Linked DNA regions of Homo sapiens. The protein of the gene in region 3 purifies or fractionates together with the protein of the main gene of each other region. This does not show direct contact. Each region holds a gene or a part of one and is shown on either strand. Other genes may lie near its edges.

Region 1 (4,191 bases), on a different chromosome or scaffold from region 3:
TCCCAGCTACTTGGGAGGCTAAGGCAGGAGAATCGCTTGAACCCAGGAGGCAGAGGTTGCAGTGAGCCGAGATCGCACCACTGCACTCTAGCCTGGGCGAAAGAGTGAGACTCTGTCTTAAAAAAATAAAAACAAAAGTAAAAATAGTTTAAAACTAGGAGCAGCCTGAAGGCTCCTCATGCCAGCGCCATCCTCCGTGCACCTGCCAGCGCTTACTGACGCCGTCTCTGGGTCAGGTGTTCTGAGGCTGCTGGGGATACACAGAGACCCTGTGTCCAAGGCAGCCCACACATGCTGACTGTGGGGGGGTTGGCCTGCACCCGCGGTCCCTTCCGTAACTAAAGACTGCGGTGTCGGCCGCCTCAGGCATGGCTACTAAAGACCCGCACAGACGGCCACATAGTGTACACTCCAATTACAGGATCTGTCTGGAAGGCAGGTCCCTGGGGACAGAAGGTAGACGGGTGGGTGCCCGGGGGAGGGGGAAGGCGGGTTCACGCTAACGGGCACAGGGTCTGTTTTCGGGGTGATGAAAACGTTCTGGAATTTGCAGTTTGACAGTTGCACAACCTTCTGAACATACAAAAAAACCACTGAATTATATAAAGTGGTGAATTTTATGGTATGTGAATCATATATCCCATTTGAAAAGCAGACTGACAAAAATTTGTTTCTAGGCAGGAAACAGGAAACTGGGGAAGCCAAGTGTAGCTTTACCCTACTCAGGGAGAACAGTGTTGGAGAGAAAGCTGTCAGCTTTTAGAACGCGATGGCAAAAGCTGTGTGTGTGGCAGGGAGAAGTCTTGGGGCTTTTTGCAGCAAGGAAAGTTCTGGGCAACCTTCGTGGCAGTGACTCCCCCTCTGGAGCCTCAGCTTCAGCAAAGGACGAGGGCATGTCCCCAGAGCAGCCACAGTCAGGCCCAGATCAAGGTTTCAACCCACGGGGAGGCTGGGCTGGGGGCTCCGTGCAGGGGTCGAGCCACAAGGCATCTTGAGCCTCCCCTGCAAGAGCATCAAGATGAAAGCCAGGGATAATTAACGCCGTCAGGCCTGGGGCGACTCCACAAAATCCTTTGTGGCGGCCTGAAAGAAAAAGCAAATAGATGCAAAACCCATCTCTGGTTTCTAGGATAGAAGGACCTTTGAAATTATAAGACATTAAAATAAAGCTTCGGGTAAAAGGACTGTCATGTTCTAGCTGCAGATTTGATGTGAGATCAAAACGGAATTGCTCCTGAAAGCCCAGGCACCGGCCTGCTGTGCAAAGCGCGCCCCACCCCAGCGTGCAGAGACGCGGCCCCGGACCCTTGCGGCTCATCTCACCTGAGGCTGCCGTCTCTCCTCCAAGGGCTGGGGGTCCCCTTCTGATCATCCTTCTCTGCTTCTTTGTCCCCTCCACTTTTTTTTTTTTTTTGAGATGGAGTCTTGCTCTGTCGCTCAGGCTGGAGTGCAGTGGTGTGATCTCGGCTCACTGCAAGCTCCGCCTCCCAGGTTCACGCCATTCTCCTGCTTCAGCCTCCCGAGTAGCTGGGACTACAGGTGACCGCCACCACGCCTGGCTAATTTTTTTGTATTTTTAGTAGAGACGGGGTTTCACTGTGTTAGCCAGGATGGTCTCAATCTCCTGACCTTGTGATCCACCAGCCTCGGCCTCCCAAAGTGCTGGGACTACAGGCATGAGCCACCGTGCCCAGAATGTTCTGTTTTTGTTTGTTTGTTTGTTTGTTTTTTGAGACAGGGTCTCGCTCTGTCACTCAGGCTGGAGTGCAGTGGTGCAATCACGGCTCACTGCAGCCTTGACCTCCCAGGCTCACATGATCCTCCCACGACAGCCTCTGGAGTGTCCCCTCCACTTTCTTTCTTAGGGGCCCCTCAGGGACATGTCAGAGGCCTGAGACTACTTGGGGGATGTCTATGGGCCAGGCAGGCTGCCAGCAGCTGAGCTGTCCTTGCCCTGGGGCTCCTCTGCAGTCAGGGAGACACCAGGCATGGGCCTGGCTTGGATGCATCAGTACTTGACTGCAAAGACTTAAACCACAGACAGGAAAGGCGCTGCTGCAGTCTCGACGGTCAAATGCAGGGCCCCCTCAGCTGCCATCCCACTGAGGGGCGAAGGCCCATCATCTCCCTTCGGCTCGGTAACTGCCTGGCGTAGCACAAGGGTTCTCTTTAAATCCCCAGCAAATGGAGCTGAGTGGAAATTCCGCCCCATATTACCAGGCACACGTCTCCTTCCACTCCTCACTATACCCTGCCCATGCCACGGCCGCCTTCTGAGAATAACGCTGACAGTTCCATGGCCCACAGCCCCTCTAGTTAACTTGCTGTGCACACGGCAGCCCAGCCAGAAACACGCAGCCAGGTCGGATATTGGGTGCATTCAGTCGTGAAGCCTGAGGCTTCCTGGCTCCCACTGAGCACAGAGAAGTGTTCTGAAGGACAGGAAGCAGCTGGCCTCACTGCTCTTCTCAGACGGCTGATGGAGAAAAGCTCACAGCTGCCTGCGCCGCTCTGCCTGGACTTGCATCCTCGGCCCCACCCCTTGCGCAGCAGTGAGGCCCCCCGAGACACTGGTGCCTGGGCTTGCGGTACCGCAGGGCTGCTGGACAACGGGCCAGACGCAGCCCCAGTGTGGATCCAGAGGTCTCTCTCCGTAGCAAGCCATGGAAGCACGACGGGCACTGTGCTGAGAACCCTGGTCTGCACTTCTGACCTGGGGCTCTGGCTGTGCGGTTCTGCTGAGCTCATCCGAGAGTCCACGCGTGCATGGCGGAGACCTGAGTCAGCGGCAGGGCCACCCCGTTATGGGCACCCCAACCCCTTATTAGGGGTGTTAATCAGCACAAATGAGCAACTGGCTCATCAGTCGGTGCAGGCTGACAGGTGCAGGAAATACGGAGGGCAGGCGGGGTAGGGGGCACGGAATGCTTCCCAACATGAGGGCATCTCAGGCCAGCAGGCGGGGCCCAGAGACCCAGAAGCACCACAACTCCCCCGTGTCCACAAGGCACTTTATGCATTCAAAACCACCGAATTCACACCCAGGTTTGCTCAGACAGAGGCCCAGAGGCGACCCCGCTCTGGCGTGGCTACCACCTGAGCGGCTGGCGGCCCTGGCCCAGCTCGGCCTCCGCGTAGGCGTCATACAGCACCTTCAGGTGCAACAGCAGCTGCTCCAGGTTCTCGCCGGTCAACGCCGACAGCACGATGACCTCCTGTCCCAAGTGATCCCGGAGCTGGGACAGATTGGCTTGGGCTTCAGGGAGGTCAATCTTGTTTGCGACGATTGCGTGGGGCCTCGCAGACAGGCCCTTTTCATACATCTCCAGTTCATATTTTAAATCGTCAACTTGAGTCCACGGCTCAGGCTGAGAAAGATCCACCACGAACAAGAGAAAGCGGCAGCGCTCGATGTGCCTGAGGAAGGCGGACCCCAGACCCCTGTTCTGGTGGGCGCCTCGTATGATGCCGGGGATGTCGGCCACTGCAGGGAAGACAGGGGCACACGAGGTGACCACTTGGCACACCCAGCACCCAAGAGCGCCTTCCACCTCGAGCCTGGGAGAGAAGGCCTGGAGCCCACTGCGAAGGCGGATTTCCTGAGTTCTAACACTTTCCTTTCAAGGAACGCCTTGAACTGAAGCCATTTGATTTAGCACCTGGGTGATTCACTGGGCCAACTGACACCTGAGGAATTCAATGCTTGGAGATGTTTGGGAGACCAGCGTGGCGATGGATCTATCTAGTAGAGTACATTTCATACCTTCTCTTTCTGCTTCTAATAGGATTCAAAAAAGAGGAAAATGGCTGCCTGTACTCTACTAATCATTTGATTACTGATAGAAATTTACATGTAGAGTACTCTGCAGATATAAAGTGCCATCCAAATAACCTTACCAGCAGGCTTACTATTTTTAATGGGTGTATTGTCTTCTGGGAAAAAGTTTTATTCTCTCAAACGGCACAAGGAAAGCTTTTAAGTCACGTGTTGTGATGCTGCTGAGCTTCCACAGATGAGAGGGGACAAATAGAGTGGGAAGAAATACTGTCCTCGGCTGGAATTTCAATGCAGGTTTCTGAACTGTAACTGACAGATTCCTAGGGGATGGGGTGGGAACCTGATTTTCATAGAGAACAGGCTGATGAAAATTGTTTAAATTAGGGCCAGGTGCAGTAGCTCACGCCTGTAAT
Region 2 (3,650 bases), on a different chromosome or scaffold from region 3:
ACTATGGTTTTTTTAAATCTCAGTGTCAGTGCTTGAAATACTTAACTATCTCCAACCAGAAAAATTTCAGAACAAAAGGATAAAATATGCCTAATAAACAGCCATATGTAACGTAAACTTCTCAGCACACTTTATGGTGTTGTCTTTATGGAAGACAACATCCTTATTCATTGGAGATGTATACTGAAGTGTTTCAGAGTAAAGTGTCATGATATGTTCAGATGAGTTACTTTCAGATGGCTTAGCAAATAAGTAAATTTAATGTATTATCTACATACATTAAATTTATGTGTATATATAGATATATACATTGATGTATATATATCAGTGTATATCTATATACATATGTACATTAATATATTATCTATATCCAAATAGAAAGCAAATGTGGCAAAATATGAACAATTGTTGAATCTAGGAGGATATACCGGTGTTCATTGTACTCTTCTTTGAACTTTTCTATATATATGAAAAAAGGATATATATATCCTTTTTTAAAAAGGAAGGGGATAAATAGTTTTGCTGAGTGGCAGTTGCCTGGTAGAAGTGTGACAGCTCCTGTCCAGGGGGAGATGGCTTTGGTGCTTCCTGAGGAAGAGAGAGGTGATCTGGCCCTGGCATACCTGAGTGAGGCATCCTAATGTGTATGAAGGGACAAAAGTTCACCCTTGTGGACCCCACAGGCCGGAGGCCCAGCTCTACTTGTGCCTTGTTTTATGTTTTGTTTCAGGTGCCGCTCAGTGGAATTGGATCTCAACCAAGCACATATGGAGGAGACTCCAAAAAGAAAGGGAGCCAAAGTGTTTGGGAGCCTTGAAAGGGGGTTGGATAAGGTTATCACTGTGCTCACCAGGAGCAAAAGGAAGGGTTCTGCCAGAGACGGGCCCAGAAGACTAAAGGTAAGCAGGCTGGAATTCTTTCATATGGAGCAGAAGCTGACTGCTAATGGACTGCCTTTTTTTTTTAAGGTGCTGAATGAATTGATTAGTGTTTTTTATTTGAGTATTTATTCACTTAGTTAATATATGTTTTTTGAGCAACTAAAATCTGCATGTTACTGTGCAGTCAGTAAATAGATACAGTCACTCCCTTCAAGGAGCAAACAGCTATCATTCAAATATTCAAGAACAGGTGGAGGGATTAGTCACAGGGGCAACATGGAGGTGAGGAAGCAGGGGGCACAGATGGAGAGCTGAGAGCTGCCTTAAGGAGGGGGACTTGAGCTCAGTTGTGTCCCTGATTCATGGATACTTTGTAGGCCCTCATGAAATATTTGAATGCATGGGAAGATAATTGGAACTTTGAGTGTGGTGTGTGTCAGGAAAATAGTGAGTGACAAGCGGGGAAGGTAGGCCGGAAGGGCCTCAAGGCCTGGCTAAGAAGGTGTGGATCTTATTTAATAGACCCAGTATGCTTTAAAAGGGTTAATGTGTCACTGGTGTGGACAATATATTTAGTCAAGGAAGGAAAGGAAAAATAAGCTGTTAGTTGATATAAAGTACTTTTTATTCTCTTGGATTCTCTCTGAGCATTCATTCAAACATCTGATGAATACATGTTTGTTTGGTGGAAGGGGAGTAATTAAGAGGTAAAGGGACGAATGAGACAGCCCATTCCTTGAGGAACTCTTAGGCTGGCTGTGAAAACAGGCTGGGATGTTGTTCTGAAACACTGGGCTCAGTGCTATAGTAAAAACACATTCCAAGAGGTGTGGGCCCAAGCAGGGGAGAAGATGGTAGTGTGCCCATCATTTGGGGACTGGGTCTATGTTTAGTTTTTGCACTGAGACTCTCGTAATGAGCAAATCTGGGCGGTTTGAGGGAAGGAAAATGCTGAGCTTTTGGGCAGAAGGGTGTTTTAGAGGAGAATGTTCTGTGATCTCATTTCTGTTCTGTCTTAAAGTGGAAGAAGATAGGAGTTATCCACTAGCAGTCATTACCTTGAACTTTTGTAGTGTGCTGAGACGTTACATATGGCTGTGTATTAGGCATATTTTATCCTTTTGTTCTGAAATTTCTCTGGTTGGAGATAGTTAAGTATTTCAAGCACCGACACTGAGATTTAAAAAAACCATAGTACCATTGCACTGAAAAATGTTAAATAAAATTAAGGAAACTAGTTCAACCACATATATACACATTATTGAGAAGCTAAGCAGTTACCAAATACTAACGGATAATGTTCTAAAAATGGTCAGTTATGTAAATATTTTGGAACCTGAATGCATTTTTCAATAGAAACTACTGTGGTGTTAGTTGGCTTTCTAGGTAGTTCTCCAGTACTTCCAGAATGTAGGAGAAAAACCACAGGATTGGGAATGAGAAGACCTGGGTTCTGGCTCCAGCTTTGTGCTGTATAGCTTTGATAAATCATTTTATTCCTGATCTCCTCAGTGTCTTCATTTGTAAAATCTGGAAATAATGCCTACCCTGGCAACCTCACACGGCTGAGATGTAGAAACAAGACTCTACATATGGGATGCTACATGGCATATTAAATGCTTTATGAGTATAAGGTGACATGTTTCCAATGTCAAGGATTACTATCAGTGTTGAGCATTTTACCACCCATGTATAGACCCATGGTCCTAATTAGCACAGTCCTAAGATTGAAAACTTTAACTTTAGATCATTAACACTTTTTAATGCTTTTAAGTTTTTGCAAAACTGAAGGACTTTCTTTGGGAAATTAACCTTATTTTTTTTCACCTACTTCAAATACTGTACTAAAAACTATACACTTACCGGAAGAGTTGCAAGGATAGTAGAAATAATACCTTAGTTTTTTAAGATAGCAAATCATATGTAGTTATGTCCTCTTTTAGGAAGCAGTCTATAAAAAATCCAAAATTTAAGTAGATAAATTAGGATTCATTCTTTATTTTACCAAAGCAGTAATATATTGTGATTTGAAGGTGTTCAGTTTATTATTAATATCATCTTAACAGAGCCAATTTAGTTTGGTGAAAAGAGTGCTGGATCAGGAACCAAGAAAGAGAGGGTCCCTTCGTTAACACTCAGTTTCACGACATTTGCTCTATGGGTGTATTGGGTGCACTATTATTTATCTGGTATTTTCATTATGTTGACTCTCCTTTAACAAATGGATTTATAGAGATATAACTGACATATAATAAACTTGCACATATTTTATTTTATTTTATTTGTTGTTAATTTTTTGAGGCAGAGTCTTGCTCTGCTGCCCAGGCTGTGGTGCAATGGCATGATCATAGCTCACTGCAGCCTCAACCTTCTGGGCTCAAGTCATCCTCCTGCCTCAGCTTCCTGAGTAGCTGGGATGCGTGCTACCACACTTGGCTAATTCTTAATTTTTTTTGCAGAGACAGGGTCTCACTATGTTACCCAGGCTGGTCTTGAACTCCTGAGCCCAAGTAATCCTCCTGCCTTGGCTTCCCAAAGTGCTGGGATTACAGTCATGAGCCACTACACCCGGCCAACTGTGCATATTTTAAAGTACAATTAATATGCTTTGGCATTATATATAACATCTGTGAAACCATTGCCACAATCAAGATAATTTTTTAAAACTCAAATTTATTTAAAAGGAAACCTTTATATCATTAGGGTTTTTTTGTTGTTGTTGTTAATTATGTTTTCGAAATCAGTTGGGAACAAATACATATTTAAAAA
Region 3 (3,650 bases):
ATACTCTATGATTCCCACTACATGACATTCTGGAAAAGGAAAAACCACAGAGACAGTAAACCCCTGGTAACAACAGTACAATCACAGTACGATCAGTGGTTATTAGGGGTTGGAGGACAGAGAGATGAATAGGTGGAGCACAGAGGATTTTTTAGGGCCATGAAACTATTTTGTATGGTACTATAATGACATATGGATACATATCATTATACATCTGTCAAAATCCATAAAACATACAATACCAAGAGTAAACCTTAATGTGAACTATGAACTTTGGGAGATAATGATGTGTCAATGTAGGTTCATCAATTGTAACAAATGTACCACTCCTGTGGGATGTTGATAATGAGGGAGGTTGTACAGGGGGGAAGGGTATGTATGAAAAATATCTGTACCTTCTACTCAATATTGCTATAAATTTAAAACCACTCTAAAAAATAGTCTTTTAGATTTTTTAAAAAAATGGAAACAGGCGGGTGCGGTGGCTCACGCCTGTAAACCCCACACTTTGGGAGGCTGAGGCAGGTGGATCACTTGAGGTCAGGAGTTGAAGACCAGCCTGGCCAACGTGGTGAAACCCTGTCTGTACTAAAAATACAAAAATTAGCCAGGTGTGGTGGTGCATGCCTATAGTCCCATCTACTCGGGAGGCTGAGGCAGGAGAATCGATTGAACCTGGGAGGTGGAAGCTGCAGTGAGCCGTGATTGCACCACTGCACTCCAACCTGGGTGACAGAGCGCGAGTCTCTTAAAGCAAAACAAAACAAAACACGAAAACCCAGTGACCTGAATTATTCATTTTCAGTCAATTTGACATCATGATTAAAACAACACTGCAATCAATTTGTTTTCAACAAGTTACCTGGGGGTAAAGGTCAACCTCAATCACTGTTAACAATCAATATAATTCACTGATATTAGTTCCTTATTTCTTTTCTGATTCACTATAAAAGATATTAATAGGCTGGGCTCACGCCTGTAATCCCAGCACTTTGGGAGGCCAAGGTGGGTGGATCACGAGATCAAGAGATCGAGACCATCCTGGCCAACACGGTGAAACCCCGTCTCTACTAAAAATACAAAAATTAGCTGGGTGTGGTGGTGTGCGCCTGTAGTCCCAGCTACTCAGGAGGCTGTGGCAGGAGAATCGCTTGAACCCGGGAGGCGGAGGTGGCAGTGAGTGGAGATAGCGCCACTGCACTACAGCCTACAGCCTGGTGACAGAGTGAGACTCTGTCTCAAAAAAAAAAAAAAAAGATATTAACAAATGACAAAATAGCACAAAAACAGCAAGTGAATGAGCTGCAAATTTACTGTTTCTCTCAAAAACTGATCACATGCTATTTTTGTTCTTTGATAGCCTCTGAAGGAAACTGAGTAGAACTGGAATGAACAAGGTTCTTTGACAGTTTATTGTCCCAAAAGCCTAACCTTATGAACTGTTCAGAAGTGGAATATGGCTGAATTCCAACATTCACACATTTCCAAATCTCAGCTAACTGTTAGTTCCATGAACTTTCACAAAAAACACATCTATCTGTGTAATCACTATCATGATCAGGAAAGAGAACAGTACTGAAATCCTAGAAATCGGATTCTTTCTCTCTTCCAATCTCTACCCCCACCTCTTCAAGGTAACTATTATCCTGATTTCTATCACCATAGATTGATTTTACCTAGTTTTGACCTTTATACAATGGAATCATATAATAAAGACGGATAAAATAATGTTGTTTTGCCTCTCCCAGTTGTATCTATGATCTACTGGAAGATTTTGTGATTTTACAAATATATATATATATATACACATTTTTTTTTTTTTTTTTTGAGACAGAGTCTCACTCTGTCGCCCGGGCTGAAGAGTGGTGGCACGCTCTCGGATCACTGCAGCTTCTACTTCCCAGGTCCAAGCGATTCTCGTGCCTCAGCCGCCCAAGTAGCTGGGATTACAGGTGTCCACCGCCACGCCCGGCTAATTTTTATATTTTTTTAGTAGAGATAGGGTTTCGACATATTGACCAGGCTGGTCTCAGACTCCTGGCCTCAAGTGGTCTGCCCACCTTGGCCTCCCGAAATGCTGGGATTACAGGCGTGAACCACTGCACCCGTCCAATTTTGTGCTATATTTGAATTTAATGCTACATGTCAAGTTCTTGTCTTATTGAGCCTGGGCACATGCTAAGGTGCCTTCTGTTTTCTAGAGGTAAGTCTTGGCCTGCCTTGGAAAGGACCAATATATGCCACAGTGACAGACAGAACACACATAACATAAATCATCCATTTGGGAGGATATGTGTGTGAGGTATGAGAGAAAGTATCAGTGAAGCTGTTATGAATCAAATGTTTCTGATCTACAAAAATAGTGAACTTATATGGTTTGACTTTATACGATGTAGAACATACCAAGGAAAGAAGAAAGTTCAAGAAGGTGTTCATACCTGAGAAGTTCTTTCTTATTGATCAAAGCTTTCATATATTCTGAAAGTTTCTTTTGCATTAATGCCAAACGAAGCCAGGCTCTTCCTCTACCTACTGGTGTCCTACAAAAACACAGAAATCAAACAACTGAAAACATAAGCACCAGAAGCAAAGGCTACAGTAGAATCAGTTCACTTATTCTTGCTAATGGTATTCCAGTGTAACAAGCACACTGAGGTGCTCCTCAGGACCTCTCCCAGTACATTCCCATGCAAGGAATTTTTGTGTGTGGGCTAATGTGACCCGGAACAAATGCTTTCAAAAAGAATTACTGAATGTAACTACAATTTGAAGACACAGCCTCTGGGAGACCCAACTAAAAATGTTCCATCAGATCAATAATAGCAAATCCTTATAAATTCAGTGTGGATTATATAAATGTCCAAAGCATGAATGTGGACACAGGCAATCTAGGCCTCTGTCTGATTAAAATTAAACCAGTCTCATTTGGGAAGGTGGTCACTACTTTATAGTTCTAAGGCAGGCTACAGTCACTAGCTCTTCAGGTTAATTTGACAGCTGTTTTAATCTTGACTCTCAAACCCACTGAATACCTTTTTTCCCTAAGTCAAGTACAGCATGCCACCCCCTTAGATATGATTCTCCCAAGTGCTTTAAAAAATAAGCAAATGTTTGGCATTTCAACAAAAAGACAATCTCTCTTAGATGAATAATTATCCCTCAAGAGCACATTTTTCTCAATATTCTGTATACCAATTCTCTCCTGTCAGCACCTATTCATGACATCATGCATTTTGGATTGTTATAAAATAAATTATTCGTACATAATTGTCTTTAGTCTTGCTCTTCAAGGGATAGTTAATAAGAATGCTGTTCCTGAGAAATGGAATTCAACCTTAGACTTACTTAAGTCCTGGAAGATCTTTAACACTTGCTGTTATCTCTGCGGCTTCTGGAACAAGCTTTTCTACCAGTTCTAGAGGCCCCCAGAAGGATTTATTTTGTCCGAGAAAAGTTTTTTTAGCTAAGGCAACAAAAATAAAGCAGTATTTTAATATTCTTTACAACATAAGCGCACTCTCAATACACACACACATACACACACAACTTTTCAGGAAACCAATCCTAGGTTATAAGATGGTTTTGGATTCATTCATGCTTTTAGAATAGATAATATTTTGTGAAAATAAAAAAATTCTCTACTTCCCAAG

What was found.
Region 1: the proteins of RUFY3 (region 3) and MTG2 purify together in Homo sapiens (affinity purification with mass spectrometry; one large-scale study listed by BioGRID and IntAct). This does not show direct contact.
Region 2: the proteins of RUFY3 (region 3) and MELK purify together in Homo sapiens (affinity purification with mass spectrometry; one large-scale study listed by BioGRID and IntAct). This does not show direct contact.

What each region holds. Positions count from the first base shown.
Region 1 is NC_000020.11:62,199,976-62,204,166, reverse strand, and holds the end of MTG2 (mitochondrial ribosome-associated GTPase 2), read right to left. Parts: intron 3,485-4,191; coding exon 3,090-3,484; 3' UTR 1,084-3,089; coding exon of another isoform or gene 926-1,083; 3' UTR 599-925; downstream 1-598. UniProt on the Homo sapiens protein: Plays a role in the regulation of the mitochondrial ribosome assembly and of translational activity. Displays GTPase activity. Involved in the ribosome maturation process.
Region 2 is NC_000009.12:36,670,268-36,673,917, forward strand, and holds part of MELK (maternal embryonic leucine zipper kinase), read left to right. Parts: intron 1-730; coding exon 731-899; intron 900-3,650. UniProt on the Homo sapiens protein: Serine/threonine-protein kinase involved in various processes such as cell cycle regulation, self-renewal of stem cells, apoptosis and splicing regulation. Has a broad substrate specificity; phosphorylates BCL2L14, CDC25B, MAP3K5/ASK1 and ZNF622.
Region 3 is NC_000004.12:70,763,365-70,767,014, reverse strand, and holds part of RUFY3 (protein RUFY3), read right to left. Parts: intron 3,464-3,650; coding exon 3,346-3,463; intron 2,541-3,345; coding exon 2,439-2,540; intron 1-2,438. UniProt on the Homo sapiens protein: ARL8 effector that promotes the coupling of endolysosomes to dynein-dynactin for retrograde transport along microtubules. Acts by binding both GTP-bound ARL8 and dynein-dynactin.